4 linked regions of the Homo sapiens genome follow. The protein of the gene in region 1 purifies or fractionates together with the protein of each later gene. This does not show direct contact. Each region holds a gene or a part of one and is shown in the gene's direction. Other genes may lie near its edges.

Region 1 (7,968 bases):
GTTTACAGACCCATGGGGGAAAGAAAGGTTTTAAAGAAGTGGATTATAAATATGTTGAACCTTAAGAAGAGGGAAGTAAAGTGTGCTTGGTTGGGGCTGTGTGATAGGAAAGGCTCTATAAGGATATGTCATAACATATACATTGAAACTTAAAGGATGCTTAGGAGTTAGCCAGGTCAGAATGGCAGGGATGGAGGTGTCAGAGGAGAGCAAGAGGGGGAGGAGTGCCCCAGGTCGACTCACTCCCAGTCTGATAATTTCCATTACAATTCCTTTTTCTTCCATTATTTGTCTTAATTCTTCATCAGAGGGAATCAGTGGGAATGTCTAAGCAATAAAGGAAGGCAGAGACCAAAATTTTTTTTTAATCTGATGGCTAAAGGGGTTGCCATCCTTTCTACTTCTTTGTTTTTTCACTCTCTCTAGATGAGTGCCTGCCTTCATAGGCTGCACCAGGGAGTGTTGGTAACCGAGGAAGGAGGTGGATCAATGGCTGGGGTACCGAAGTCCAATTGTTCCATTGTAGATCAGGATTTTGGTCTCAGTGTGGGACTTTGGGGAGACAGGGATTGGTTCTGACCCTGAGGCGCTGATATATGACCCCCTTCCCCTTCCAGGAAGTGGACGTTGTGGTAGCACCATGCCAAGGCCTCCGGCCCACAGTGGATGTTCTGGGTGACTTGGTGAATGATTTCTTGCCTGTGATAACCTATGCACTCCACAAAGATGAACTCTCTGAGAGGGATGAGCAAGAGCTTCAGGAAATCCGAAAGTATTTCTCCTTTCCTGTATTCTTTTTCAAAGTGCCGAAACTGGGCTCGGAGATAATAGACTCCTCAACCAGGAGAATGGAGAGCGAAAGATCACCGCTTTATCGCCAGCTAATTGACCTGGGCTATCTGAGCAGCAGTCACTGGAACTGTGGGGCTCCTGGCCAGGATACTAAAGCTCAGAGCATGTTGGTGGAACAGAGTGAAAAGCTGAGACACTTGAGCACATTTTCTCACCAGGTGTTACAGACTCGCCTGGTGGATGCAGCCAAGGCCCTGAACCTGGTGCACTGCCACTGCCTTGACATCTTTATTAACCAGGCATTTGACATGCAGCGGGACCTGCAGATCACTCCCAAACGTCTGGAATATACTCGAAAAAAGGAGAATGAGTTGTATGAATCATTGATGAATATTGCCAACCGAAAGCAGGAGGAAATGAAGGATATGATTGTTGAGACACTTAATACCATGAAGGAGGAACTTCTGGATGATGCTACTAACATGGAGTTTAAAGGTAGGTCCCAGAGAGCTTGTTGGGGTGCTGGCACGGGAGGAGTCTCTAACCATTTTCTAGCCGGAAATTAAGAACGTTAATTCCTAAGGTTAAAGGAATCTCAGGGTAACTTCATCCACCCCACTGTTACCAGCAGGAGCCCACTATTTAGCCAAGGTGGCCTCTCTTGCTCTCAAAGATCATTGTGGAAGATTCCACCCTCATTCCTTCCCAAGAACATTAGCTCAACTTTTGGTAAATTCATCCTAATAGCTCTGTAATCTCCACTTTCTGCCTGTACCCCCTCAACCCCTAATGGAGCTGGAGAAGAGCTGCTTGGAGAATGTTAGTAAATTGTGCTTTAACCTTTGCTCCTGCAGTATGGCTCATGCCTCTTTATTGGTTCTTTTTGTCTCATGGTCTAATTTCCTTTCAGGCTGCTTCTGAAGCCCACATCAGGAGGATTTCCCAAAGTTGTGTTTTTAGCCTTTTGACAGTCCTATTCTTCACAAATGGCTACTAACAAAATTGGGTGAAAGTGATTGGTCAGGTCTTTGGGTGTCTGAGATGCTGCTGATTTTGTATACTGACTTCTGTATAAACCTCCATGCAAGATTAAAATGACATGGTTTGCAAGTTACCCTTTAGAGTCTCAGTTGTGAGTATCCTAATCCCTTGGGAGGCTTTCTGAAAATACACATGCTCAAGACCACTAAAGATGACTGCAGACTTACTCACGATTTCTGACATGGGACCCAGCATCAGTATTTTTAAAAAATAACCTCCCTAGGTAGATTCTGCTTATTTCCTTTTTCTAGATGAGGGACTAAGGCTTAGAAAGAGTAAGTAATTTGCCCAGGGTCACACAGCTAGTAAATATTAGAGGCAGGATTTGAATCCAGACAGTCTGATTCCTGAGCCCATATTCTTAATTTCCATCCTTTACTGCTTCTTAATCTGTTTCCAGTTACTGATGCCACCTTCTTCCTGGTACCCACCTTCAAAACCTCAGCATGGTCTTGAATTGTCTTCCCTTGGCTAATCAGTTGCCAAGTACTGATTAATCTTTCTTTTTTTTGAGATTAAGTCTCGCTCTGTCGCCCAGGCTGGAGTGCAGTGGCGTGATCTTGACTCACTGCAACCTCCGCCTCCTGGGTTCAAGCAATTCCCCTGCCTCAGCCTCCCGAGTAACTGGGATTACAGGCGTGTGCCACCGTTCCCGGCTAAATTTTTTTTTGTATTTTAGTAGAGACGGGGTTTCATCATGTTGGCCAGGATGTTCTTGACCTCGTAATCTACCCGCCTCGGCCTCCCGAAGTGCTGGGTGGCGTGAGCCACCACACCTGGCCTCGATTAATCTTCTTACGTATTCGATACCTATCTATGCTTTTCTATTCTGTCTTAAGTCTAACTGAACTATTGTTATCTAACTGATCTCCCTGACTTCTTTCTTCAGTTCACCTTTACTGGCTCCCTACTTCTACAGACTAAGTTTAACTCCTACACCTAGTATTAAAGACCTCCCAAAGCCTAGCCCTTACCAACTTTTCCAGTCTTATTTCCCCACTATGCACTTTCCTGTATTTTCTATGTCAGTTGGTCTTAACTTCTTTCTGTCCTCCATACGCTCCCTTTACTTTTTCTTTGCTAACACCCTGCCTTAAACCTGGAATGTCTTTGATTTGTCTGTGAACTTCCAAATCCTACCTACCCATCAGGGCCTGTCTCCCAAATGCCATTTTTCATGAAGTCTTCTTTAATTTTCTCCTTCTTTTTTTATTTTTGGGACAGGTTCTTGCTCTGCCATCCAGACTGGAGTGCAGTAGTGCAGTCATGGCTCACTGCAGCCCCAATCTCCTGGGCTCAAGCAATCCTCCTGCCTCAGCCCCCTGCACACCTGGGACTACAGGCACATGCCACCACACCAGCTAACTTTTTGTATTTTTTTTTAGAGACAGGGGTTTCACCATGTTGGCCAAGCTGGTCTTGAACTCCTGGTCTCAAGCAATCCTCCCACCTCGGCCTCCTAAAAAGTGCTGGGATTATAGGCATGAGCCATCACACCTAGCCCTGCTTTAATTTTCTTAGCTAATAACAATTGCAGTCATTTGAAATCCCATAGCATTCCATCTGTAACTTATTTCTGGCATATTTCACTTTCTATCTTTTATTATAGTTATTTATGTACTGCGGACTACTTCCTAAAATCCTAGAGTTGAAAGAGGGTAGGATCTGGGTCTTATTCATCATCATATTCCTTGCAGCAAATAACACAGACTCTTGTATACAGTACGTCTTTGGAGAATCAATGAGTGTGTGAATGATGGTATCTAGTTTAAGTTACACTTATAAATACAAAGGAAGTATGGTTGACTTTAGCAAACATAGGTTGCCTGATTTCTTATAGTCATTCTAAAGATGAACAGAGATACCTCTTTGGTTAATTCCCCACTGCGAGAGGAGTTGTTGAGAAGTGTTACTTGCAGTGGAAATCTTAGGAAGTCTTCTCAATATTTGATTAAAGACACCAGAGCATCACTGCCGGCATCATATTACACAGAATGGAGGTCAGGACAGCTAGGTTGGGCAGACAGTAAAGTATCCGATTGTTCTTACCTTGTTCTAAGTGCTTTCTGAGTATCCTTGAAACAATAAGAAGATTTAGAAGCAAGCTAGCACATATTCTATGGAGCCAGATTTTTTTTTTTTTTTGTAAAGACGAGGTCTTGCTGTGTTGCCCAGGCTTGTAGCGATCCTCCTGCTTCAGCCCCCACAAAGTGCTAGGATTACAGGTATGAGCCATCGTGCCCAGCGTTGAGCCAGATTACTATTACTGTCTGTTTTTAAATAAAGACAATGCATATGTGCTAGGTATCATGATATTCACACTTTATAAAATTTATTTTTAAGATAAAACCTATATGTATAGTACTTAACTCAGAGTTATAAAGACACCATCCCCCAGCCACCCAGTTCTTCTCCATATGTTCTTCTGCACTTGTCTTTTTCATTTAATATGTATCTTAGAGGGCATTCCATAAATATTCATACAAATTTGTCTTCTTCTAATGGATATGCCTGAATTTATTGAACTATTCTCTCATTGGTGGACATTTAAGCTGTTTGTTTTTGTTTTTTATTTTTATTTATTTATTTTTTTTTGAGACAGGATCTTGTTCTGTCGCCCAGGCTGGAGTGCAGAGGCCTGGTCTAGTCTCACTACAACCTCCGCCTCCTGGGTTCAAGGAATCCTCCCACCTCAGCCTCCCTAGTAGCTGGGTCTAAAGGTGTGCACCATCACACCTGGGTCTAAAGGTGTGCACCATCACACCATCATACCTGTATTTAGTAGAGACAGGGTTTCACCATGTTGGCCAGGCTTATTTGTTTATTTTTTATTTTCTCTTTCGCTAATACAAAATGTACTGCATTAATCATCATTGTACATATACACCTTGGGACTTGTAAGGGTATATCTCAAGAAAAAGAATTCCTAGAAGCAAAATAGTTAGATCAAAGGGTATGTAGATTTTTCTTGGTTGGTTGAACATTTTAATAGATATTGCCAAATTTCCTCTGAAGAAGTGGCACCCATTTAAGTTTCCACCAGTAGACATGAGAGTGCCTTTTCAGGAGCACATCTTTTTGCAAGTAGTTTGACTTCTCTCAAGTTCTTCTGTCCTCTGATTTACAACATTAATAGATGTTCTAATCCTAAGAGATAGTGTGGCATGGTGGGGACAATTGAGTTTTACTTTTTATTTATCTAGTAATTGATTAGAATAAAATTCCTGGCCGGCGGCAATGGCTCATGCCTGTAATCTCAGCACTTTGGGAGGCCAAGGTGAGCGGATCACCTGAGGTCAGGAGTTCAAGACCAGCCTGGCCAACATGGTGAAACCCCATCTCTACTAAATACAAAAATTAGTCTGGCGTGGTGGTGGGTGCCTGTAATCCTAGGTACTTGGGAGGCTGAGGCACAAGATCACTTGAACCCAGAAGGCGGAGGTTGCAGTGAGCCGAGATCGTGCCACTGCACTCCAGCCTAGGCGATAGAGCTAAACTCAGTCTCAAAAAAAGCAAAACAAAACAAAACATAGAATACAATTCCTGACTCTTGGGTTTTTCTCATTAATATGCTAGGGAGTGTGAAATTTTGCAAAGATCATAGGATTTGGAATAATGAGCACTGGGTTCAAAAGCTGGCTGTATTACTTCCTAACTGTACTATTCCCTTCCCATGTCTACTTTGTTCTCTCTTTGAGGCTGTTTCCTGATCTATAATACCCATGTAACAAAGTTATTGTGAAGATGAAATTAGATTACATGTGTAAAATCCTTATTTTAGTGCCTTTCAAATAGTTTGCACTTCATAAATGTTGTTCCTCCCCTCCTATAAATGTGACATAAAAGCTAACAAAATTGCCGGGCACGGTGGCTCACACCTGTAATCCCAGCACTTTGGGAGGCCGAGGTGGGCAGATCACGAGGTCAGGAGATCGAGACCATCCTGGCCAACATGGGGAAACCCCGTCTCTACTAAAAATACAAAAAATCAGCCAGGCGTGGTGGCGGGTGCCTGTAGTCGCAGCTACTCGGGAGGCTGAGGCAGGAGAATGGCTTGAACTCGGGAGGCGGAGCTTGCAGTGAGCCGAGATTGCATCACTCCACTCCAGCCTGGGCGACACAGCGAGACTCCGTCTCAAAAAAAAAAAAAAGCTAACAAAATCAACAGTCTCATTCTAGACTTATTGCTTCTTATTTATTTTTTTTTTTTGAGACGGGGTCTCACTCCCATCACCCAGGCAGGAGTGCAGTGGCACAATCACAGCTCATTGTAGCCTCTACTTCCTAGGTTCAAGCCATCCTCCCGCCTGCCTCATCTTTTTACTTTTTGTAGAGATGAGGTCTCACTGTTACCCAAGCTCATCTTGAACTCCTGGGCTCAAGCAATCCTCCTGCCTCAGCCTCCCAAAGTTTTGGAATTACAGGCGTGAATCACTGCACCTGGACTTAATTGCTTCTTCTCAGGATCTTAGCTGCCTTTAGTAGTTGAGGGTTACGTGACCCCTGATCATTGTGAGAGTTAGACATCATCAACGAATCATGTCTTTTTGCAGCCATCATCATCACGGTAGTTCCATGGTTCTGATTTGGGAGATGACTTTATTTAGTGTGTCTGCCCCTTCTTCCTCACAACTATTCAGCTTATTTCTCTGCCTCCATAGACGTCATTGTCCCTGAGAATGGAGAACCAGTAGGCACCAGAGAGATCAAATGCTGCATCCGACAGATCCAGGAACTCATCATCTCCCGACTTAATCAGGCAGTGGCTAATAAGCTGATCAGCTCAGTGGATTACCTGAGGGAAAGCTTCGTCGGAACCCTGGAACGATGTCTGCAGAGCCTGGAGAAGTCTCAGGATGTCTCAGTTCACATCACCAGTAATTATCTCAAACAGGTAGACAAAGAATGATTTTTAAGACATCGTGTCATAGATAGCACATGAAAAATCTGCACAAGTCCACACTTCAAATTAGGCAAGAATTTCCCTTTCAGCTTCTTGCGAATCTTGTTTGAATTTTATTTTGTTTTCCTGTCACATGACCACTGCCTGTGGGAGATGTTGGTGAGCTGTAAAACTGCAGTTAAGTTGATGAATATAGGCCAGGCACAGTGGCTCACGCCTGTAATCCCAGCACTTTGGGAGGCTGAGGTGGGCGGATAACCTGAGGTTGGGAGTTGGAGACCAGCCTGACCAACATGGAGAAATCCCATCTCTACTAAAAATACAAAATTAGCTGGGCGTGGTGGTGCATGCCTGTAATCCCAGCTACTTGGGAGGCTGAGGCAGGAGAATCGCTTGAACCTGGGAGGCAGAGGTTTCGGTGAGCCAAGATCACGCCATTGCACTTCAGCCTGGGGGACAAGAGTGAAACTCTGTCTAAAAAATAAAAAAAAAAATAAAAAAATAAGTTGATGAATATAAAGATGAGGTAGAAGGGGCTAGATAGTCACAAAATAAATAATCAGCTTAAGTTGACTCTGCATATATATTGAGGGGTAAGTTTGGAAACCCTGAGTCTGGACTGTGTTCTTGAAATAAGTATCATTTATTGCATTTTTAAAATAGCCACACTACTGAGGACATGTTTTCTTTGGCGTTGTCTCTTTCAGATCTTAAATGCTGCCTATCATGTTGAAGTCACGTTTCACTCAGGGTCGTCAGTTACAAGGATGCTATGGGAGCAAATCAAACAGGTAGGGATTATTACTTAGAGAAAGATTTCAAAGCCCCTAGTTGGCTCAAATGAATCATAGTGACCCCAGTAGGAAACAGATATCTAGGATCTTCTGTTAAGGCAGGGTGACCATTTGTTCTGGTTTGCCTGCCTGGGAGAATTCTGGTTTATGCCTATTCTTAAATAATTATTAACATTGTTCCCTTGAACTCTCAGAAGTTTTGGGTTTAAATGATTTTTATGTTGGGTGCTCTTTGTGGACAATGGAAAAATAGAAAAAAAAGATAAATGATATTTCATGGAGCCATAAGACTCTACCACACTAGCTTCTTCATATTTCTTTTTCCCAGCCTAAATCTTTTCTCAGAACTAGGCTTTGTTGTTGCCAGAGGCTGTGAATGTGGTTTCTGTTCTGGAATTTGATCTGGCTCTTATGTAGAGTTATTTACTGACTTCAGAA
Region 2 (8,431 bases), on another chromosome or scaffold:
GAGACTGTCTCAAAACAAACAAACGAACAAACAAAAAGAAGAGAAACTCATCAGACGAAGACACAGGAAAAAAATGAGCGAAGGAAATCAGCAGAGGTTTCATTGAAGGACAAAGAGAAATGGTCAATACATGGATGAAAACATGTTTAACTTCAGTAATAATCAAGGAAGCACACACCAACACAACATGCACATACTGTTTTTATTTATCAAAGGCACACATATTTTTGAAATGAGTACTCCTAATTAATATGTACAGAGCACTTACCCAGTGCCCAGCACAGGGGTGGCACCCTGTGTGTGAGACAGCATGAAACAGGTAGACACGCGCCCTGCTGAAAGTAAGGGACCGCCTCTCTGGAGGATCCATCGGGCAATAAGGAGGTTTCCACACCTTAACTGTGTCTGCCTTGACCTCTGGGGCCTGGGAGCAGAGCCCCCTCCAGCTGGTGGGGAAGGAAGCGTGGTGTGTTTGAGGACAGAATGGAGAGAAGTTGAGTAGAGCAAGTGTAGACTCTTCCTATCCAAAGTGTGGTCAATGGACTGGGAGTATCAGCATCACCAGGGAGCTTGTTGGAAATGCAGAGGCTCAGGCCCCACTCTGACCTTACTGATTGGGAGCATAAACTGTAACCAGATTCCAGGGAGGATTCATACACACATTCCCGTTTGATAAGTGGGGGGTAGTAGGAGGTGAGGTGAAAAGTGGGGAGGGGATGGCTACCGCACTGGAGAAGGCTGGCTTTGTGTTGAGGCCTTTCTCATGAGGGCAGTGGGGAGCCATGGAAGGCTTTATGCAAGAGAGGGTACGGGCAGATTGAGATTACAGAAGGATCCCACTGGTTGCCTTGTGTGAGGACCCAGGGAGAAGGGGGAGGCTGTCCCTGTTTGAGTAGGAGATGAGAGCTACTGGTGGCTATGAGTGGAAAGAAGTGAGCAGAGGTGAGCAGAAATCCCAAGGACTGGTGATGATAGGATGATGGTGGGAACCAGGATGGGCTTTGGGCAGACCCTGACCCCTCTCTCTGCCTGTCGGCCCACCAGATAATAATCCCTGTGTTCCTGGGCGAGTCAGTGCCACCCGAGATGTTGGCGGCCACTTTGGCTGAGCTGGACGGATGCCTGCAGCTGCTCGAGGACAAGTTCCTGCGGGACCAGGCCTTCCTTACTGGGCCCCGTATCTCTGTGGCTGGCTTGGTGGCAATCACGGAGCTGAGGCATGAGAGTGCCATGGGGTGCGGTGGCCCGCTGGGCAGTGGTGTATCCGGGAAGGGAGCTGACATCCCAGCTCATGTTGTCTTTTCTGGCTGTGGGACCCTGTGTGAGTCACTTCTCCTTCTGAGCCTCAGTGTCCTCATCTATAAAATGGGGCTTTACAAACCCCTCACCGCAGCTATATTAAGAGGCTTCCAAGTGTCCCCAGGGAGGGGGACATCCTAGCCCATCACACACATGGTGGAGGAGGGAAAATCCAATCAGAGAACCCCTAAAGCAGGTCATGCTGCCTTACACTTGGCTATGCCCAGCCCCTCCGCTGACTCTGTCTTCCCCTAGCCCATCAGTGCTGGCTGCTGAGTCTTTGAAAGCAGACCCACGGTGGCAGCATGGTGCCCAACACGTGGAGGCTGCAGTGCGGGAGGACTTCTTCCAGGAGGCCCTCCCAGCTGTCCTGAAGGCCAAGGACCTGCCTCCAGTAGAACCTGCTGTTAAAGAGAATCTGAAGACCTTAATGCAGCTTTTCTTGCTGTGAGTGCGTGTCCCACACTTGCTGAGCCACTGAGGGGATGCTGTGTTGGTAGAATAAAGACATGGAGCTGTCCGTCTCCTTGGTTGAAGAGAAGACATATCTGCAAAGGCTCTGGTCCACAGTTCCTCCAGATATCATGCCTGCATTCCTTTTGTCTCCTACCCCATTCCATTCTAGCTTCCATGTGACCTCTGAAAAGAGCTTGGGCAAACGCTTACTTGACCCTGACCTTCTGTGTGGAACTTTGTATGGTTCCTCACTGCCCAGAAGCTAAAGTACAAGTCATTGAACTTTGCATTCAAGGCCTTGCTCCCACTCCTCCAGGTGGCCCCTTCTGCCTGCACACTCCTAACCCCTCTCTGGGCTCCCACCTTGGCCTCTTGGCCTCCGCTCATGCTGTTCCCTCCTCATCTTCGCCTGGTGCCCTTCCTGGTCTTTTGGCATTTGGCACCCTGTCTCTTCTCCAGGGAGACTTCCCTGACCTCCCCAGCCCCAGTCCAGGTCAGGCGACCTCTCTGGGCTCCTCAGCCCCAGTGTTTCCTTGCGGGGGATACCCCCGGACTGAGCATGTATCATCGATGAGGGGTGACCTGGTGGAAAGATGTCTGAATCAGGATCAGCCTTGGTCTCCTCGGTCTCTCTCCTCACTGTGGGGCGATGTTGTGTTCCACAAGTGGGGTGCAGGGCTGGTTCATGAACCTCCTTGCAGGAAGGGAAGTCCCTGGTTATTTCCTGGCCCTCTCCCATGCCTCCTCATAACCTTGACCACAGTCTTCTCTACACCCCACTCCCGGACCACTGGCTTGTCCATGCCCCACACCTGGTCCCAGACTTGCCACCTGTCCCTGCCCTCTCCCCTTAGGACTGTCATATTTACCTGTCGTGTGTCTCAGACCTTCTGATATCTGAGTCATCTAATAAACAAACTGCTAATAGGACAAGATCATGACAGACAGAGACTCTGTCGGCCTTTCAGTGGAGGCTCCTTTAAGTATGCACACTTATAGAGAATTTTATACACGTAGTTGAAATTGTACATATAAACTTGCAAATTTTTTCTTTCTTTTTTGTGGGGGAGGGGGGAGCCTGGGTCTCACTCTGTCATCTAGGGTGGAGTGCAGTGGCACAGTCATAGCTCCCTGCAGCCTAGATCTCCTGCGCTCAAGCAATCCTCCTGCCTCAGCCGCCCAGGTAGCTAGGACTACAGGCACACACCACAGCACCCAGATTTCTTCTTTTTTTTTTTTTTTTTGTAGAAAATAAAGAAGAGAATCTTGCTATGTTGCCTAGCCTGATCTTTAACTCCTGGGCTCAAGCAATCCTCCCTTCTTAGCCTCCCAAAGTGCTGAGATTACAGGTGTGAGCCACATTGCTCGACCACAACTTCAGTCATATTTGTAATGTACAATTCAAGTGATTTTGCCACACTGACCACACTCATGTTTAAGCCACGCCAACAGAGTTCCATGTTTTCTGATGTTTTTTCGAGATGGAGTCTCGCTCTGTCACCCAGGCTGGAGTGCAATGGCGCGATCTCGGCTCACTGCAACCTCCACCTCCCCGGTTCAAGCGATTCTCCTGCCTCAGCCTCCCGAGCAGCTGGGATTACAACGTCTGCCACCACGCCCGGCTAATTTTTGTATCTTTAGTAGAGACGGGGTTTCGTCATGTTGGCCAGGCTGGTCTCAAACTCCTGACCTCAGGTGATCCGCCCGCCTGGACCTCGCAAAGTGCTGGGATTACAGGCGTGAGCTACCGTGCCCGGCCTTTCCATGTTTTAAAGAACATATTTTGCCACCCCCTGGTGGACAGTGGCTCACCACCGGCACAAGAGGCTACACAGGCAGATGTCAATGGGGACCAGGCAGGGACAGGTATTGTCGTGAGCCTAGCCCTACCCGCGCCCCCGCGAGTAACCACATCTCCTGACTGCCCAAGCGCAGATTTCCATACTGAACATGAAATTGCCTGACTTCGAAATGGTGGCAAATCATTCAAAAAAACTTTAAGCTCCCGTTGTATTGGTTATTAGGGTCGAGCCTGGGGAAGACCCCTATAGGTGTGTGTGTGTCCTTGTGTGTCGGGGGTGTGGTGTTCAGACCTCTAATAGGGCTAGGAACCGGGCGACCACAGCGCGGAAGCTTGAGAGGGAAACCCACCTGGCGCCAGGCAGGAGGGTCGGGGGAGACAGGGTGGGTCCACTACCGGGTTAAAGACCTGTAGTGGGTGGGGCTACACGTAGGGCGGAGACGATGGGACTTCCGGAAATCAGCCGGCACACGTGACTTTTGTTTGCAGAAGCGGGAGGTACCCTAGGCAGCCAATCGGGGAGCGCCGAGTCTCTGTCCAGCCAATGAGAAGCCAGGTTGCTGTGGCGCCTCGCCCCTCCTCCCTGGTCCGCGAGCCTTGGGTACCCCCAGCTTTTCTTCCGCCAGAGCTGTTTCCGTTCCTCTGCCCGCCATGCCGTTCCTGGAGCTGGACACGAATTTGCCCGCCAACCGAGTGCCCGCGGGGCTGGAGAAACGACTCTGCGCCGCCGCTGCCTCCATCCTGGGCAAACCTGCGGACGTAAGCGTGGGCCGGGCAGCACGGGGCGAGGGGAGGTTGGTGGGCCAGGGGTCCGGCCCTGTCCCTGCTCCGCCTCCCCGACAGTGACCCCGAATCTTTTCCCCAGGGACCACTCCCCACTCCTTTCCTCACGCCAAGCTCTGACTTTCCGTGCTCCACGATCCCGCGGCTCCCCCTCCGCACGTCTTTCCCTTGTCGCCCTCCCCAGTCATGACCCGGGCGTGACCTTCAGGGACCGCGGCCCGTATCGGGATCCCTGCCCCGCGAACACTGCGCGTTTCGGCTTTCGCGCGCTCGGGTCCCGTCCCCAGAGGTAGCCCGGCCGGCTCCAACTTCGGGCAAAACTTTTCATGTCCCCCTCAGCGCGTGAACGTGACGGTACGGCCGGGCCTGGCCATGGCGCTGAGCGGGTCCACCGAGCCCTGCGCGCAGCTGTCCATCTCCTCCATCGGCGTAGTGGGCACCGCCGAGGACAACCGCAGCCACAGCGCCCACTTCTTTGAGTTTCTCACCAAGGAGCTAGCCCTGGGCCAGGACCGGTGCGTAGGGGTAGTAGGGGATCCATGTGGGACTGCCGCAGACTGGAGCCACTGATCCTGCCTCAGGGGGAAAAACCCATTTCTTGCCCTGCCCAGTAAGGACACATCAGGGTCTGGAGCTTTGGGGCCCCCTGACCCCTTAGGTTCCTGCTGTTAGGACCATCTTCAAAGTGCGAGCAGGATTGAATGAATTTCTGGCTCTGCTCCTCAGTGTGTAAGTCTGTGAACCGGGAAGGCTCTCTTTTAACACCCCCGGGGCAGTGCAAGGGTCATGTGGGATTGTCTGTGTGCTGTACCTGCCTTGGCACCTGACAGGGTAGGTACACGTGGCTGAAGTGTGATTTTCTAGAACTTTTCCAGGCTGGTCAGAAGGAATTCTGGGTATGTTCTGAAGTTACGTATTTTGGACCTGTGTCCCAGCCAGGTTCCAGGTGAAGTTCACGGGAGACTCACAGAGTAGTGAAAGACCATTGGCCTGGATGTCTAGACATCTGCTTTCTGGGTCCTGCATAGCTGGGGGACCCCAGACAAACTTGGAAATGAACCATCTCCAGTTGGCAACCTCCTCTTCTGTGAATACAGGGGAAAAGACCTCCCTCCCCCACAAGAAGCGTCTGCAACCCAAACCTGGCGTTCTGTGACCGAGTTAAAGTTTCCTCTTGGGTAAAAGATATTCTTGAGCCACATCCATGTCTAGGAGGAAGTAAGGGCATGAGAAGCTTGAAAGGACACTGTCCAGGCACGGTGGCTCATGCCTGTAATCCCAGCACTTTGGGAGACCAAGGCGGGAGGTTCATTTGACCCAGGAGTTGTAGACCAGTCTGGGTAACATAGTGAGATGCCATCCCCCAAAACAGTTTTAAAAATTAACCGGACATGGTGGTGTGCACATGTAGTCTCACTTAGTTGGCAGGCTGAAGTGGGAGGATGGTTTCAGCCCAGGAGGTTGAGGCTGCAGTGAGCTATGATTGCGCATTGCACTCCATCCTGTGTGACAGTGAGACCTTGGCTCACAAAAAAAGACCTTCTGAAATGGAGCCTTTGTTAGTCCATGAAGGTCGATGAGGAATGGCTGATCCTGCTGGGTCCTCCCTCAAGCTACAGAGGAATAATACAGTCAGCCCCCTGTATCACTGGGTTACGCATCTGTTGATTCAAACAACCATGGATTGAAATATTAGAGGAAAAAAAATTGATAATTGCATCTATACTGAAAATACGTATAGACTTTATTCCTTGTCATTATTCCCTAAACAATACAACTATTTACATAGTACGTACATTATATTAGGTATTATAAGTAACCCAGAGATTATTTAAAGTATATGAGAGGATGTGTGTAGGTTACATGCAAATATTACACCATTTTATGTAAGGGACTTGAGCAAATGTAGATTCTGGTTTCCTCTGGGGATTCTAGAACAAATCTCCCACGGATACTCAGGGAAAACTGTTACTCTAACAACAAGTGTTATACACTTACCATGTGCTAGGTCCTCTACAGGTACTTTACACTCATGATCCCATTTGATCCTTACAATCCCTATCCACTCTCCCTTTGCTCAGACAAGACATGCTATCCCCATGAGGTAGATAATCTCCATTATGCCAATTTTATGATGAGAAGACAGGCTGTTCATACTCCCGCCCGCCCCAACCAGGCTGTCCCAAGTTCTGGTTTTCCTCACTGGAAACTTGCTGTTACCTCTGAGAGGGGCATGTTCACTTATGGCCCAGACATTAGTGGCGGGGTTGGTGGGGTGGGGGGTCACCCTGTGCTCAGCCTTTGAGAAAACAGGTGGCTGAGGTACTGTGCCCTTAGGGAGCCTGCAATTAGGAGGCAGGGTACCCCTCAGTACACAAACTGATGGAGATGATAGAGTGTACGGCACACACACCGAGGCTACTGTATTGTGTGTCTGTCCTAGCTGGGTCATGATGTGCGGCTACCTCCCACACCTGAGTGTCCCACTGCCCTGCTGGGGGTTGGGGAAAATCATTATTGGGATGAGCAGGTTTGCAAAATGCCTGGTGGACTGAGGCAGGCTGTCCTGAGTACCCACAGTGGGAGTACCTGGCAGGGGTCTTGCAAGATGTGGTATTAGCCAAGGAGCTGATGATATCTTTTTCTCTGTCTCCTGAAGGATACTTATCCGCTTTTTCCCCTTGGAGTCCTGGCAGATTGGCAAGATAGGGACGGTCATGACTTTTTTATGATTGGGCACGGAGGGATCCAGGGCATCTGTGAACTGGCTGCTTCTTCCAGAGAGATCTCTTGGCAGAGTGAGGGCCTGGAGATAACCAGCTTTGGATTATCCCGCATGCAACATTCCTGTGATCACATAATCCTCTTCTTCATCCTCATATGAAATAAATGAAGAGAGCTTCCTCATTCAAACATGACTTCTTACCTTCTATTATCTCTCCTGGGCATCTGGGGCCACCATGGGCAGCAGGGCTGGTGGATAAGACCGTAGGGAACCTGGAGGGGGATGATTTAGACTGCTCAGATCTGGGGCTGGGAGACTCAGCCTGGAGGCTCTGCTCTCCACACCCATCTGCAGGCCTGTGGGAAGGTGTGAGCAGCTGGTCCAGCTGGGGCCTTCCTGCAGACTGCTGACCTGAGGCTCCTGTCCTCAGCCCCAAAATGGGACCAGACCTCTGTACTCCTCCTGAAGTCTACTCCCTCCATGACTGGCTGGGCAGCCTGCCACGCCACTCTCCCCTTTTCCCCACTGTAGAGTGGAGGCAGGGGTTGCCTGTGTCCCTTTGGGGGTTGGTCGCTGGTTTTCCAGAAGCAGGGTCCCCAGTCTGCCCCTCCTCCTCCCCAGGGTTGCAAGCTTCGACTCCCTCCCTTTGGCAAGACTCAAACCGTCCTCCCAGCTGCCCCATCACCCCTTCCTGGCAGTAGCACCACTTTTCATAACCTTTCCAGCCCAGGGGTCCCCAGGCTGGGAGGACAGCTGGGGGGATGAATGGCAGGTAAGGCTTCCTGTGTCTTCTCTCCTGTTGCAACTGTGCCACCTGCACACTTACACACTCATGGACACACCATGCACATACACACATCCACCCGCATCTAGTCACGATTCATCACATTCACACACATATACAATCATACCATTTACACACAGTTAACTCATGTACACACACATATACACCCAGTCACATAATTCACTCACATCCAACAAAGTCACACAACTCAAATTCACACATATAGACCAAATCCCCACACACGTACACACACACACACAATCACAGCATTCACTGACATTCATAGTCATCACACAGTTCACTCACACACACACATACTCCCCGTCACACACAGGCACACAATTCACACCAACAAAATCACAATTCACTTATCCACCCACATACTCAAATTCACACTGCTCACATTTACACACAATTCACTAAAATTCACGTATACACCCATGTACACAGTTCACTCACATCACACACATATACACCCACACATAAACACACAATTCACTCACACACAGTTCACTGACATTCGCACACATACACACGCACCACACAGGCAATTCAGTCACATGGCCAAAAGCCAGTCCTCACC
Region 3 (7,968 bases), on another chromosome or scaffold:
ATATAGTCATTTGCAAAAATATGTGGGAAAATTTAGATTTGTACAGCAGCTAAATTGAGGGTAGAGTGATAATCGTTTGCTTTACAAAAGAAGGCATATTCATGTTCTGCATGAGTTTTCATGACAAAAAAGGGCAAGGTAATCTCCTTCTCCCCACCCTCAATTTTGAAAAAAGGAAACACTTCTAGTTTCTTTTATTGAGAGCGGTCTCCCCCATTGATGGGGACCCCTAATTGATGGGGTCCTCTCTAGGAGATTTTATCCCATTTGTACAGCTTCCTGGTAAAAGCAGATCTGTGTAGCTGAGTCCGGATCCCTAAAGCATTACTGTAGGTTGAGTATATTGGGGGCAAACTGAAAATATATACAGTCAGCTTACAGTCATTTCTGCTGACTTTTCTAAGTGCTCCCTTACATCATTTAGCATTTGGGATGTTTGCATTAGAATTGAAATAGAGAATTGTCTAGTCCATTCTCCTTTGCTTTTGGAGACTTTAGGGGAGATTGCACTTGCACAACTGGTATTTTGGCGGGGGTGGGGGGTGTATTTTGAAATCATTGTTCTATAACCAGTGTGTCATTGTTACTCAGCCTGTCTAAAGAATCACTTCTGGCTGAGATTTATATCCATTTTATTTTCTCTCTGGCAAAAATTCAAGTGGCTCTTCTTCCAGCTTTTTTTTCTCCCCTTCTCTAGCTTAATTTGTCAGTTCCATTCTTAAACATTCTGCATAGATGCCTGGTTTCCTGAGCCAACTCTTGTCTCTTACTAAATGGGGTGATGTTATGTTTTTAAGCTGCTATGTAGGTGACAACGACATTTTACTCTTTGAACGTTCAGACTATCTAGTCAACACAAGCTTTATAGAAGCAGCTTTCTCTGACCCAGCATTCGGAGATGATTTGGATTTTCAGGAATAAACGTTTTTAAAGGGGATTGAGGTTTCAAAGTGAGATCTTCCAGCCTGCTTATAAGGTAAATGCCCGCCTGTCCACTAGATGCTTCCCAGGAGCTCTGCCACCCTCCAGTTTTTCCTTCTTTCCTTAAAGACTTCAGATTTTTTTTTTTTTTTTTAATAGAGGCAGGGTCCCACTATGTTGCCCAGGCTGGTCTGTAACTACTGGGCTCAAGTGATCTTCCTCCCTCAGCCTCCCAAAATGCTGGGATTACAGGCGTGAGCCACAGCGCTGGCCGACTTCAGATTTTCTTAAGGCATTGTTTGGAAAGCAAGATTCAAGGAAACTCCTCCTTAGGTTGCAGTGAGCTGAGATTGCACCACTGCACCAGCCTGGGCCACAGAGCAAGACTCCATCTCAAAAAAAAAAAAAAAAAGGAAACTCCTCCTTGTTACCGGGGTTTTTTTGGTGCTTGAGTAAGCGTTGCTTGTTGCTGCTTAAAATACATCATCAGCAGCTCTTTCCATAGAAACTACAAGGCTTTCTTGTTACAGTTGGGATTGCCACTGCTTGGAATGCTGTCAGCCTGTGTGTTTATTTGTCTGTAAAGTTATAGCCTGGTAGGGCCAGAATGGCAGCCAGTCTTGAAAGATTATATATATATTGCTGCTGTATTTGTCTCTCTCCATGTCCTAGAGATCCTGTGAAAAAGGAGCTCTGGCTTCAGATCACTGCAGGGTTTTGCCATTCTTCCCTCTCTTACCCGGGGAGGCTGAAATGACAGCGTGAGCTGGCCTTCTGTGCTCACGCCTGCTCCTCCTTCCTAAGACAGTCTTTGAAACTTGCAAGGACAAGAATACCCATGGCAATTGAAGGCCTCCTTTTTTTTCATAGTCAAACCTAAGCCTTGAGAAAGTGCTTAATTTTATAAACAAAGAATTAGACACTTGGTTTACTTCCTCTGCTATAAAACTATGCTTGGAGCCAGGCGTGGTGGCTCACGCCTGTAATACCAGCACTTTGGGAGGCTGAGGTGGGTGGATCACCTGAGCTCAGGAGTTCAAGACCGGCCTGGCCAACATGGTGAAATCCTGTCTCTACTAAAAATACAAAAAAATGGCCAGGTGTGGTAGCTCACGCCTGTAATCCTAGCACTTTGGGAGGCCCAGGTGGGTGGATCACGAGGTCAGGAGATCGAGACCATCCTGGCTAACACAGTGAAACCCCATCTCTACTAAAAAACTACAAAAAAATTAGCTGGGCGTGGTGGCAGGCGCCTGTAGTCCCAGCTACTCGGGAGGCTGAGGCAGGAGAATGACGTGAACCTGGGAGGTGGAGCTTGCAGTGAGCAGAGCTTGCGCCACTGCACTCCAGCCTGGGCGACAGAGCGAGACTCCGTCTCAAAAAAAAAAAAAAAATTAGCTGGGGGTGGTGGCGGGCACCTGTAATCCCAGCTACTCTGGAGGCTGAGACAGGAGAATCGCTTGAACCCAGGAGGCGGAGGTTGCAGTGAGCTGAGATCGTGCCATTGTACTCCAGCCTGGGCAACAAGAGTGAAACTCAATCCCAAGAAAAAAAGCTATGCTTAGTTTATGGTTTGATGGATCACTGTAAAAGCAGAATATAAATGTTTGAAGATTCCAAGCATTAAGGTACTTTTGGAATATGCTGTAGGTATGGCTCCCCCATTTTTTTTTTGAGACGGAGTCTTGCTCTGTCGCCCAGGCTGGAGTGTAGTGGTACAATCTCGGCTCACTGCAGTCTCTGCCTCCCGTGTTCAAGCGATTCTCCTGTCTCAGCCTCCTGAGTAGGCGGGATTACAGGTGCACACCACCACACCCATCTAATTTTTGTATTTTTAGTAGAGACGGGGTTTCACCATGTTGGCCAGGTTGGTCTCAAACTCCTGACCTCAGGTGATCCGCCTGCCTCGGCCTCACAAAGTACTGGGATTATAGGCGTGAGCCACTGGGCCCAGCCAGTGCCTCTTTTTATTTAAGGAACTGATGTTTGGGGACAAATTGTGTGTTCTCGCGCGTGTTTGCACATGTGCTGCAGCATTGTTAGACTCAGCTGTTCATGTTCATGGGTCTGAAGAGTCTCCAGATTATTTGTTGGACTTTTAAGATGCATTGTTTGCCTTTAATTTGTTTTAACTACCTTGTCTAGCACATTTGTTTTGTCTTACACTCAAACAAATTTGTACCTCTGGAATCTCTAGCAACCAGTAGTGTGGGGTAGGGATCAGAAATGTGCTGGAGAGGTGATAGGGATTGACAGGGTAGAAGTTACGAGATTGTAGTAGACTACCAGATTTTACTAGATTTTCTTTTGATCAGTTTGTGGATGGTTCCACCAGAGGGCAGTGAAGGAACAGACATGACGTAGAATTCAGACTCTTCGTTTTTCTCAAAAGCAGGACAGGGTTGCCTTTAGCTAAAGTTAAAGGTGGACAGCGTTTATGGTTAGATTTACTTGAGTCCTGGCTCCCTATGTGAGCACAGATAATGTTCTGTAAGAGTTTTTAGAGTCTCAGATTGTGGTCTGTGAAGGTGTGGTATGTATTAATTTTTAAACTGGAGGCTCTAGCACAACAGCTGATAAATCTTAATTTTCGCCTTGAATGGAAATTCTGTGTGTGTGTGTGTGTTTGTGTGTGTGTGTGTGTGTGTGTGTGTGTGTGTGTGTGTGTGTTTGTTTTTTTTTTTTTTAAAGAGACAGAGTCTCACTTCTTTGCCCAGGCTGGAGTACAGTAGCATGATCTCGGCACACTGCAACATCTGCCTGCTGTGTTCAAGTGATTCTGCTGCCTCAGCCTTCTGAGTAGCTGGGATTACAGGCACGCACCACCATGCCCGGCTAATTTTTGTAATTTTAGTAGAGACGGGGTTTCACCATGTTGGCCAGGCTGGTCTCGAACTCCCTACCTCAGTGATGCACCCAGTTAGAAGTGTGTGTGTGTGTATGTGTATGTATTTTTTTTTGTTTGGTTTTGTTTTGTTTTGAGACGGAGTCTTGCTCTGTCACCCAGGCTAGAGTGCAGTGGCGCGATCTCAGCTCCCTGCAGCCTTCTCCTGGGTTCAAGCAATTCTCTGCCTCAGCCTCCCAAGTAGCTGGGATTACAGGAGCCCGCCACCACGCCTGGCTAATTTTTTTTTTTTTTTTGTATTTTTAGTAGAAACAGGGTTTTAACCATCTTGGCCAGGCTGGTCTTGACCTCCTGACCTCGTGATCCACCTGCCTCGGCCTCCCAAAGTGCTGGGATTACAGGCATGAGCCACCTCCCCTGGCCGGAAATGTATATATTTTTAAATCTCTGACCATCATTTGCCATCACATAGTCCCCCAGCCACACTCTATAATGTTAAAAGTGCTTTATTTTCTTCCTAGTGCTTATCACTGTCTGAAATCACCTTGATTTCAGTTACTTGTTTATAGTCTGTCTCCCCCACCCACTTCAGGCTATATTTAGCCTAGCATAGTGAATGTCTGGCACATGGTAGGTATGCAGTAAGTATTAGAAGGAAGGAAGGAACGTTTTCTTGGAATACCAGTAACTGTTCAGGTATGTCGTGGATTTTTAAAATTTGTTTCACTTTTCATTTCTGAGAAAACAGAATCTGTCCAAACAAGTCTTTCCTGGCCTCCTTTCTTCAGCTTAGGTCCTGACTGTTGGCAAGAATGAAGATGAATCCTATTCTGAGTCTCTTTCCTCTCTTCCACCCTAGCTTGCCAGCAAAGCACGGACAGAGAAGGAGGAGAAGCTGAGCCAGGCCTATGCAATCAGTGCTGGTGTCTCTCTAGAGGGCCAGCAGCTCTTCCAGACCATTCACAAGACGTGAGTTGGGATCGGAGAGGTCCTTTGTCCTGGGGTAATGCTACCTGGTTGTGCTGTCTGGTGGCAGGCTTTTGGGTGGTTGTCTTCCTAAAAGTCTACTGGGGAAGCTGGGTAGGGTATTGGCAATATGCCAGCATCCAGAGGTGCAGGTGCTGTAGCCCCCTTTCCACACAGAAGAATAGTGTAATCACGGACAAGTTGTCTTCTCTGGTCTTTAGTTGCTTGTCTGTAAAACTTAGTTTTGGATTAGATTATCCCTAAGGATCCCTTCTAGACCTAGTAGTCCATAACTTAGAACTAGTGATTTCTTCTCTTTGATTTTGTTGTTTTGTGCCTTTCTTTAAAAGCTGATGCAGTTTTTATTAAGGGAAAGTTATATCTATATCACTTTTCCCATTGTAGATTGGGATGAACACAGGGAGTTAGAGCAGGCCACCTTCTTACCACCTCTTAAAAGACATTTTGGGGCCGGGCGCGGTGGCTCACGCCTGTAATCCCAGCACTTTGGGAGGCCGAGGCAGGTGGATCATGAGGTCAGGAGATCGAGACCATCCTGGCTAACAAGGTGAAACCCCGTCTCTACTAAAAATACAAAAAATTAGCCGGGCGCGGTGGCGGGCGCCTGTAGTCCCAGCTACTCGGGAGGCTGAGGCAGGAGAATGGCGTGAACCCGGGAGGCGGAGCTTGCAGTGAGCCGAGATTGCGCCACTGCAGTCCGCAGTCCGGCCTGGGCGACAGAGCGAGACTCCGTCTCAAAAAAAAAAAAAAAAAAAAAAAAAAAGACATTTTGTTGGTCGGGCACGGTGGCTCACGCCTGTAATCCCAGCACTTTGGGAGGCCGAGGTGGGCGGTTCACCTGAGGTCGGGAGTTCCAGACCAGCCTGACCAACATGTTGAAACCCCCATCTCTACTAAAAATACAAAATTAGCCAGGCGTGGTGGTGCATACCTGTAATCCCAGCCACTTAGGAGGCTGAGGCAGGAGATTCGCTTGAACCCTGGAGGTGGAGGTTGTGGTGAGCCAAGATTGTGCATTGCATTCCAGCCTGGGCAACAAGAGCAAAACTCCGTCTCAAAAAAAAACATTTTGTCACAGCAGAAGTCATTTGACTCTCCACTAGCTTCCCTAGCTGCTGAAAAACTGGAACATTTGACACCCCTCTCCACCCCGCCTCCCCCCACCCCACACTGCCATCTGTTACTCTGTTTAACCACCCTGGATCTGGTGCACAGATGGCAGCTGGCATCAGAGCTGTTTGAGGCTGTGGTGTGAGTATCTGAACATTTACAGGTATGTGAAGGAACTCCCAGTCGCATCAGCTGCCCTGGGGCTTCCCAAGTGTGAACTGGAATGGGTTTTCCCAGTCTGGCAAGTGCCCAACTGTCTGATAATTGAGAAGAGCCAGTCTGAAGAGCAGCTCCCATTATGGGTGATAAGGGTCAGAGTACAGATCATAGGAAGATGGGGAGTTTGTTCTCTCTCTCTTTTTTTTGAGTCGGAGTCTCACTCTGTCACCAGGCTGGAGTCCAATGGTGCAATCTTGGCTCACTGCAATCTCTGCCTCCCAGGTTCAAGCGATTCTCCTGCTTCACCCTCCTGAGTAACTGGGACTACAGGCGCGCAGTCCCACGCCCAGCTAATTTTTGTATTTTTAGTAGAGACAGTTTCATCATGTTGACCAGGATGGTCTCGATCTCCTGACCTCATGATCCGCCCACTTCGGCCTCCAAAGTGCTGGGATTACAGGCGTGAGCCACTGTGCCTGGCCTTTCTTTTTTTTTTTTTTTTTTGAGACAGGGTCTCACTTTTATTGCCTAGGTTGGGAGTGCAGTGGTGCGATTTTAGCTTACTATAGCCTCAATCTCCCCGGCTCTGGTGATTCTCCCACCTCAGCCCCCGGAGTAACTGGGACTACAGACGCATGCCACCACTACCGGCTAATTTTTTGTATGTATTTTTAGTAGAGACGAGTTTTTGCCCTGTTGCCCAGTCTGGTCTCGAACTCCTGGACTCAAGCAATCTACCCACCTCGGCCTCCCAAAGCGCGGGGATTACAGGTGTGAGCCACCGCGCCCGACCTGTTCTCCTGTCTTTCTAAAGGTGGTATTTCTCCCTAGGCCAATGGTTGACAAACTATGCCAGCAGGCCACATCTGCTCATCTGTTTTACCTATTGTCCATGCTACTTTTGTACAACTATGGCAGAACTCAGTGCTAGTTGTAACAGATGATATGGACTGCAAAGCCTAAAATGTTTGTTACAAGACCCTTAAGAGAAAAAGTTTGCCAGCCTCTGCCCTAGGCTGCTATCTTAATTTGGATTCTTGAGGCCACTATCACATTTTTATGGCTCTCCAGATCTCTGATGCTTCAGAGTAACAATTTCTGGGCTCTCCCAAGAATAAATGTGCATGAGTTTCATTGCTTTTCTAGCCAGTGGCACCCAAGGAATGTTTCTTGGCTACTATATGGGCTGCTGGCATCTAGTTGTTGGCTGAGTGGTGAGCTGGGAACTTGGGATCAGCCTTCTGGAGTTATTTATTCATCAGACAGGAGATGTGGGATGCCCCCAAGAGGTTACATTTCGCCTGCTGTCTTCTCCTTCCAGCATTAAAGACTGTAAATGGCAAGAAAAAAACATCGTAGTCATGGAAGAAGTTGTTATTACACCCCCATATCAAGTGGAAAACTGTAAAGGCAAAGAGGGGAGTGCACTGAGCCATGTACGCAAAATAGTAAGTAAAGGAGCCTTCAGACTTTAGGGGAGAGAGGATGGTTCCTCAGGCCTTCAGTCTTTAGCACCAGACCAGGACATTGTGCTACAGTCTCTGCCTCCTCTAGCAGCAGAGGCCCTGTCTGGCCTCCCTGCCTTCCCTGTACTGTGGGGTTCTGCAGTCCTGTGGGAATGGAACCACTGGGTGGTGTGGAAAGAAGTGAGTGGGTGACCCTATGTCCTTTGCTGGCTTTTTGGAATTAGGAAGACTGTTCCATGGTATTGGGCCTGAGCAGTTTCTCTCATCCCATATTGAGTTTTTCTTTTTTAGAGACAGAGTCTCGCTCTGTCGCCCACGCTGGAGTGCAGTGGCGCGATCTCAGCTCACTGCAACCTCCGCCTCCCGGGTTCAAGCGATTCTCCTGCCTCAGCCTCCCGAGTACCTGGGACTACAGGCGTATGCCACCACACCCGGCTAGAGATGGGGTTTCACCATGTTGGCCAGGCTGGTCTCGAACTC
Region 4 (7,968 bases), on another chromosome or scaffold:
CCTCCCAAGTAGCTGGGACTACAGGTGCCCACCACCACGCCCAGCTAATTTGTTGTGTTTTTTAGTTGAGACGGGGTTTCACCGTGTTAGCAAGGATGGTCTCGATCTCCTGACCTCGTGATCCTCCCGCCTCGGCCTCCCAAAGTGCTAGGATTACAGGCGTGAGCCACCGTGCCCAGCCCTGAAGGATGTAACATTTTTGGTTCACAGAAGTATCTTTGACAAAGATCTTATTGATGATTTATTGCACTTATTTATTTGCTTTGTCTCACTCTAAAGACTCGTCCAGTTAATCCTGTCTAGCTAATATTAACAGAAAGGAAATGTTAATAATGGGGGGCAAACTAATTTTATCTGAATTGTTAAGCATTCTTTGCCTCAACAACATTTTTGTAGTTGTGAATAAAGACTAAGGTGGTATGCTAGTTCGCCCTTACTATTTAAATTTGATTTTGAATATAAAGCATGTTACAATAAATAATATCTTTAATTATTCATATTTCAACCATTATGCAGAAACCTGCCTTAATCCTATTTTGAATAATCTTTTGTCTAGTATAAGCCAGTACCAGGAATCCACAAAAATAATAGTGAACCTTTATTAAATATAATAGCCTTCATTAAACATTTGTTAAACAATGTGTCAGGCACTATGCTAAACACTGCATAGGTTATCTCTTCCAGTGAAACACTGAAACCCTGTGAAGTGTAGACATTTCTATTCCCATTTTACGGATAAGGAAACCAAAATTTAGAAAGTACCTGGTCTCTGGTCCCACAACTAAGTGGTAGAGTTGGAGTGCTAACCTGGTCTCCAGTGATTTTAGGCACATTATACATCCTTATATAGACATTATATATATACATTATATTACATATATACATTATACATTCCTTCTATATCCTTCTGATTTACAGGAGGCCCTGTTGTAATGCATGTATCACATATTAACTTAAGTAAACAATCATTTAGAAATTATTGCTTTGAATTATTGAAGTAGTCTTAACTTAGATTGTTTTATCATCTAATATTTCAGGTAGGAAAATGCTTTCTGATGAAACTCTTGATCCTCCAAAAAAATATATATTTGAAATACACATGTGGGCTGGAATTTGGAAACACTCTATAATTTAGTTCCCTTAATGCTTCACTGACACCATTGGTTGCTATGGTAGACAGTTGATATCACCCTTCTCTCAGAATGCTTAAAAATAAGTAAATTCATATTTGAGTATACCTATTACATACATAGATAATACTTATAGATAATAGCTAACCGTATTTCTGTTAATATTAGCTAGTGTGATATTTAAGTGCCTTACATGGATCATGTAGTTTAACCCCCACAACTCCATGAGCTGCAGGTACTGTCATCTCTGCACATAGAAAGTAAGTAACTTGCCCAAGATCTAATGGTGATGGAGCTCCTGTTCTTAACTCCCACATCATACTGTAGGAAAATATAAAGAAGAAAACATATAATTTCTACTCCCAAGGAATTTGCATTCTGTTGGGAAAGAAGGCATACACAAAGTTGTAAGGGTACCATATATTTAAATACTAACTGATTCCTGTGAGTTTTACGAGAAAGAGAGCTTGCCATTATCATGGAAAGTTTCATAGACAAAGTAAATCTTAAATTTGATTGAGGCTTGTAGGACCTATAGTATTTAAATTAATGGGAAGGAAGGAGGGAGCAGGCATAAGTGACAAAGGGGAAGGGGAGTTTGGAGGAGTTTGGAGTATGTGTGTTTGAAAGAATGGTTTATAGTGGCTGTAAAATGATAGGGCTCTGAACATCTTGATTCAGGGTATGGCTTGATGAGTTGACCAAACTATGCTAAGTGAATAATACAATTGTTGAGAAAATAAACTTTGTCTGAGCCAGGGTCTCACTCCTGTCACCCAGGCTGGAGTGTAGTGGCAGGGTCATGGCTCACTGCAGCCTCAACTTCCTGGGCTCAGGGGATCCTCCCACCTCACCTCCCAAGTAGCTGGACCACAGGAGCATGCCATCACGCCTGGCTAATTTTATATTTTTAGTAGAGATGGGGTTTTGCCATGTTTCCCAGGCTGGTCTTGAACTCCTAGGCTCAAGTGATGTACCAGTCTTGGCCTCCCAAAGTGCTGGGATTACAGGTGTGAGCCACCACACCCGGCTGAGAGAATATAGGATGTTTTGCTCCTCAGTAAAATCTGAACTCTCCTAAGAGGGAAGGGGCAAATAGCGAATTAGAAACAGCATGTTGGTACAGAAAGAGAATGGGTTTAAATCTCTACTCTGTTACTAACTGAACCACAGTAAAAAGTTATTTAACCTCTTCAGCTTTAGAGTTTTCATGTATTAGATGGAGGTTATTCTCTTCTTGGGGTAGTTTGAAGATTAGAAATAATGGGTGTATCACAGTGCCAGATGTATTGCAGCTGGTCCATAGCGAAGGTAGTCATCATTTTTAGTCTCTGTTAATCTTCAGTGAATGAAAATGACTTTTTTGGACTTAAGTTCATTTTTCTGGCACTATACCTCCATTCATCACCAGGATTGTCATGTTCTTCTGAAAGCCCTGAGTTCCATTTTTTGTAGCACTTGTATTTTGAAATTATATGTTTAATTATGTGATTATTAATATCTGCCCCCCAACCCCAGACGGTAAGCTTCATACAGTCAGGAGTCATGTCTGATTTTGCTGACCACTGTCTTCCTACTGTCTAGCACAGTGCCTGCTACACAATTGGGCTCTACTGAATGTTAAATGAAATAAATTCTTAATACCTAATACTGAAATTACATTGTGATATTGATGGCTGCCTACATCAAAGTGGGAATACTTTCTTTGAAGAATTAAAATACATGTAATATGAACTGTGTAAAATCTCAGTGCTTGAACTCACTAGTCTTCTGTGGTCACATATTGACACTATGCTGATTGAACTCCTTAGAAATGGAGGACAGTAATGTATTTCGTTATATTTATCATTATTGTATATTGTTTTCAGCTTAACTAATTGTGGCTTGAATTTCCATCATACTGTATGTTAACTCTTGTGCAGAATTTCATTTCAAGTTTTTGGTTATTTTATTTTGCAAGAAATGTTAATTGTTTCATGAAACTCTCACGGCTTTAAGAAAGTAAAAGTATCAGGTGCCTCATTTCACTTCTTCAGTCTTCCATTCATATAAATATTGTTTTCATTTGGTTTTCTTATCAGGGAGAAGATGTCAACCGGACACTAGAAGGTGGAAGGAAACCTCTTCATTATGCAGCAGATTGTGGGCAGCTTGAAATCCTGGAATTTCTGCTGCTGAAAGGAGCAGATATTAATGTACGTAGAGGACGTGATCATTCTTGAAAAAATTTTCTGTTAATATGCTATGGGTAATTGTTTTCTATAGATTATAAAATAGCTATTTGTAGAAACTTCATTCTAAATAAGAATACAGTCTGAAATTATGCCAAATTGCCTATAACTTAGATATACAGTGGTGGGATTTTTAAAAATAAGCCAAAAAAGCTGACTTTTTTAAGCTGACAAAAATTGAAGGTTAGTATGTTTCCCCTGTGGCTGTTGCTTTTCAAGTTCTAAAGCTTGGGGAGTTAGCACTATCTGTGGGTAACAAATGGCTATGATGTAATACAGCATAGGACTCTGCAGTCATAGGCTAAATCTAAAATGGATTATTGGACAAAGGTCAATGGGCAAGTGGTCAGATAAGCGCAGTCATCTCCCAACTTTAGCCTTTTGTAGCTTCTGTATTTCAGGGGATGCCATGCTACCCGGCCCTTTTACCTCCTCTTTGGCTGTGTTTTACCCCTGTTTTCCCTTACTGGACCACACTGGCATTTCTACAGTTGTGGGGAATCAAGGCTTAGAGAGGCTAAATAATAGTACCATAGTAAGTGGCAGAGCCAAGATTTGAGCTGAGGTCAAAGCCCTGCTCCCTATGCTCTACTACTATGACTCCTAAGGAAAGACATTGCTCGTGGGCTTGGGTCTCTGGTAGCTTTAAGAGACTAGACACTTGACTCTGTGGATTGATTGATTGATTGATTTTCTAGAAAGGCAAATAGGTAAATCTAGAAAGAGTTTTCTAGTTAAAACTAGAAAGTAGGAAGAAATGAAAAACAGATAAAGTTATCTCTGTTTATTATTTCATAGGCTCCAGATAAACATCATATTACTCCTCTTCTGTCTGCTGTCTATGAGGGTCATGTTTCCTGTGTGAAATTGCTTCTGTCAAAGGTGAGGTCAATTGCTAATAGTATTGCTTTTTCTATTACTGTGTTTAAGCCAAGTATTTGATTGTTAATTTATTTGAATTTTGTGTGGCAGCAGGGACAGAAAACTGGAAGCAATATACAAAATTGAAGTGTAGTGTTACTCAAAATAGCTGGCCCATAAACTGTTACCAGTTTGTGGTAGGTAAGGAGCTTGGGTGAATATAAATCAGCAGTCTTCTTTGTCAAGAAAATATTTTACACACACACACACAGAAACCAGCTTGAAATAACCATTGTACTTGATGATATAGAAGAATGTCATTTTGGACAGTAACACTTTGTGGACTGGCACCAGGTTCATACACCATGCTTTGAGTAGCACTGGTTTGAAATGTATATGTTTCATTTTCTGGAATACATACCGAGCAAAATGGTTAGAGGTAGTTTGCTGTTAAGTAAGGACTCTCCAAGTTATCTGGTTTCTTGATATGCTTGAGATAGTGGTAAATTTGGAGTTTTCCTACCTTTTTTGTCTTTGCTATTATAAGCCCTTAGATGGAGTTCAAAATCCAGACTCAGAAATTAACCATTTAGTTGCCGCCATTCTAGCTGTATTAGATGGATCCTACAGATGTTGGAAAGCAAGAAATCTTCAGAAAATATTACCAGTTACAGTATTATCACTAGTATTTAATCCCAGCCTTGTCATTTTATGACCATACTCTGGAAAGTGTTGTTTATAATATTTCATTTGGGATCTTAAGCCCTACTAAAAGAAGCAAGAGAAAAACAGAAATGAGTAGATGTATATAAAGCATTTTGCCACAGTGCCTGATACATAGTAAGCACTCAATAAGTAGTAGCTTTTATTATAACTAAGGCTGAAGAGGATTTTAATGCTTTGTAGTGTCAGCTTCAGTAAGATACGAAGAAAATTGGGAAAGAAGATAGCACATTTATCTCTTAACACTTTATTGACAACTTTGTAAAGATATGGTTCTAAAAGCAGTTAATTTGGGTCCTCTAAATAGAGCTAGGGTTTTTTCTATCCATAGCTTCATGTTAACCACAATTACTGGATTTCTTTAAATATGTTTGTTGTTGTTTGGGTTTGGGTTATATATCAAGAGCAATTTTTATACCTTACTGATAAGAATGATGCATTTGTCCAAAAGCCAAAATAAATGGAAATATTACTCTTTGCCGCTAGTGGATCCAGCATCTGTGATAGGGTGTGCTCGCAAAGATTTCCAGTCACTGTCTTTCTCTTTACTGTTCATCCCTCCCCAAGATCTGCGAAAGGATTACAAAGTACCTTTGAATACTGCTAGATAATTTCATCCCTGGGAAATATTTTTGCTTACTGTATCAAAAACAGATTTGCTGTTTATGAAAGATTTATATAATTTCAATATTGTATTAGTTAGGACTCTGTCTTGCAAGTAACTGAACCCAGCTCAGACAGGCTTAAACAGTAAAGAGATCTTATTAATTTATATAACTGTACAGTTGAGGCACAGCTTGACCCTGGATTTAAGACACATGACCATGATCTGATTTTTTTATTTTTATTTTTGGCCTGTCCCAGGTCTCTTCCTCAGCATTGGCTTTATTTCCATGGCTTCAGCCTATCTGCTAGCTCTCAAAAGAAATGGAGGACTCCCTCCTTACCCTTCGTTCCCGCCTTTTCCCTGACCTTTTTTTTACCCAGCCAAGGGTTTTGTTCTCTGAAAATAAAAACCTCCATGGGATCATTTTTTGCTTAGGTCCCTTGTCATTTACTAAATGAGCTGCCCTAAATGTACTCTTTCCTTCTAACCATATCTCAAACTGTAGATCAGAACAATTTTTCTTTGTGTTAGACCTCTCTGTCCTCCTAGGAAAAACAAAACAGGATATATTTTTTATTCTATAGAGAACCCAAACCATTGTTCTGTACTCCTTATTCCCAAAACATGAGGCTTCAGGTCATTGAGACCTTGTGGTTGTAAGTTTCCGTTGTTAAAGAGTTGAAAACATTAAATGAGTTCCTGAAAAGTTGGCTTGATTTGCATGTACATTAGGCCCTAAGATGTCATCCCAGAAGGTTCTCTGTGTGTGTACTGTGTTGCTAAATTATTGATTGTGAGTTGTCTTACTTTTAACTAGTTTGTTTTTTCTTTTGCTTATGCCCATTTTGTTCTTTTGTGTCTGAACCTTGACTTTTTTTAGCCAAATAAGTGACATTTGGAGATAGCTATGTTGGTAGCAGACCGTTTGTAACCATGTAGAGCTGTTGTTTTATATGAAAGAGATTTTCTTCTTTTTGAAATCAGCATAGTACATTTTAGTTCTGCTTTTTCAAAATTAATTACTTTGATTTTATTATTGCATAAGCTTCTTTAATGGATACCCTGTAGTTTTGTTAGGCAGATTTTTTTTGAAAATTGATTATACTCTTTCAAAAATTCTTAGTTGCTAAAATAGAGTTGTTCCAGTGCATCTTTTAAAAGTTATAATCAGTGTTTATATTAAGTCTAATTTGTTCTGCCTTTTATCAAAAGTAGAATTCTTATGGATTATTATGAATTCACTTGAAAAGACTTGGTTTAAGAACTTTCCAGATTCATTGACATTTCCAATACATTATCCAGTTGATTTATCCTTAGCATACGAAAAAAGGCAAAATAATAAACAGGGATTTAGAAACTCAGTATGATCACAACTAATAGGGGAGAAATCAGAAAAACAAACATGATTGCTAGAATATTTGAAATCAAACTTTATATGATATGCTGTATCATTTATAATTTATTATAAACCCAAATACTTAGGTATTATTATCTCTCTTTTATGGATAAGGAAACCATTTATCTCGGGGTGGTCTAACTGCTTGAAAGTCAAATACAATGTAATGGAATCAAGATTTGTTCCAAGATGTAGGATTCAGCAGCCTGTGTTCTTACTATTACTTGAAATTGCCTTTCAGAAGTACTGTCAGGTCAGTTAATGAGAAATGGAACATGTACATATCTGCAGGTAAAAAGACTTGTGGCCTCATTTTTAATTGGCAAGCTGGTAAATGAGAAAAATGTAGAGATCAACAGATGAGAGGCTTCCATTTCAAAGTTTAGGTGTGAGCACATTCTGTGGTGTTCTCTTTTTGCCCCCAGTGACAGAAAAGATGTTTTTAAAGTGAGTTGATCAGTATCTGCTTTGGACCAGAAGAATTGGATCCATCAAACAAGAAATGATAAGGAAACCTTGAAAGACAGAAAACAAGCAGGGTAGGGCCAAAGAAGAAATTCCCAAATAAGAGCAAGAGAGTATTGTTGCAAAAGGCAAGAGCTGATCCAAGGCCACGCCCAGAGGTGCCTAGTACCCCCAAGCAACAAATGGAGTGACAAGTTGGATGCACTTCAGGAAGAAGCAAATTAAACCCAAAAGGAAAGACTGAGATGCAAGAAGGGGAATGATAAGTAAGAAGTTAGTGTGAATTAGTATGTGAATAACTCTAAACAAATATTTAACACTGAAGTTTTTAAAAAATAAGCTAGAACCAAATAAGGTAAATAATATGAGATGATCAAAGCTTCTGGTATTTTCACCAAATCCAGAGTACCTGAGAAACATGGTAAAACTAGCAAGAAGAAACAAGGGAAAGGAGGCAGATAATTAATGCAGGCTCAAGAAGCATCCTTGAAGAGGTAGCAGCAGCAGAGGAGTGAGAGTGTGAAGAAGCTGATGTGAGTGTATGAGACAGACACT

Evidence for each region.
Region 2: the proteins of DSTYK (region 1) and DDT purify together in Homo sapiens (affinity purification with mass spectrometry; one large-scale study listed by BioGRID and IntAct). This does not show direct contact.
Region 3: the proteins of DSTYK (region 1) and LSM12 purify together in Homo sapiens (affinity purification with mass spectrometry; one large-scale study listed by BioGRID and IntAct). This does not show direct contact.
Region 4: the proteins of DSTYK (region 1) and MTPN purify together in Homo sapiens (affinity purification with mass spectrometry; one large-scale study listed by BioGRID and IntAct). This does not show direct contact.

The regions. Positions count from the first base shown.
Region 1 is NC_000001.11:205,162,482-205,170,449, reverse strand, and holds part of DSTYK (dual serine/threonine and tyrosine protein kinase), read left to right. Parts: intron 1-617; coding exon 618-1,287; intron 1,288-6,494; coding exon 6,495-6,727; intron 6,728-7,443; coding exon 7,444-7,527; intron 7,528-7,968. UniProt on the Homo sapiens protein: Acts as a positive regulator of ERK phosphorylation downstream of fibroblast growth factor-receptor activation. Involved in the regulation of both caspase-dependent apoptosis and caspase-independent cell death.
Region 2 is NC_000022.11:23,970,191-23,978,621, reverse strand, and holds DDT (D-dopachrome decarboxylase), read left to right. Parts: upstream 1-4,180; 5' UTR 4,181-4,207; coding exon 4,208-4,315; intron 4,316-4,678; coding exon 4,679-4,854; intron 4,855-5,278; coding exon of another isoform or gene 5,279-5,495; exon of another isoform or gene 5,496-5,525; intron 5,526-6,065; exon of another isoform or gene 6,066-6,998; coding exon 6,999-7,071; 3' UTR 7,072-7,215; downstream 7,216-8,431. UniProt on the Homo sapiens protein: Tautomerization of D-dopachrome with decarboxylation to give 5,6-dihydroxyindole (DHI).
Region 3 is NC_000017.11:44,036,914-44,044,881, reverse strand, and holds part of LSM12 (protein LSM12), read left to right. Parts: intron 1-4,625; coding exon 4,626-4,735; intron 4,736-6,697; coding exon of another isoform or gene 6,698-6,793; intron 6,794-7,343; coding exon 7,344-7,470; intron 7,471-7,779; coding exon of another isoform or gene 7,780-7,968. UniProt on the Homo sapiens protein: Nicotinic acid adenine dinucleotide phosphate (NAADP) binding protein. Confers NAADP sensitivity to the two pore channel complex (TPCs) by acting as TPC accessory protein necessary for NAADP-evoked Ca(2+) release.
Region 4 is NC_000007.14:135,946,874-135,954,841, reverse strand, and holds part of MTPN (myotrophin), read left to right. Parts: intron 1-3,211; coding exon 3,212-3,325; intron 3,326-4,159; coding exon 4,160-4,243; intron 4,244-7,968. UniProt on the Homo sapiens protein: Promotes dimerization of NF-kappa-B subunits and regulates NF-kappa-B transcription factor activity. Plays a role in the regulation of the growth of actin filaments.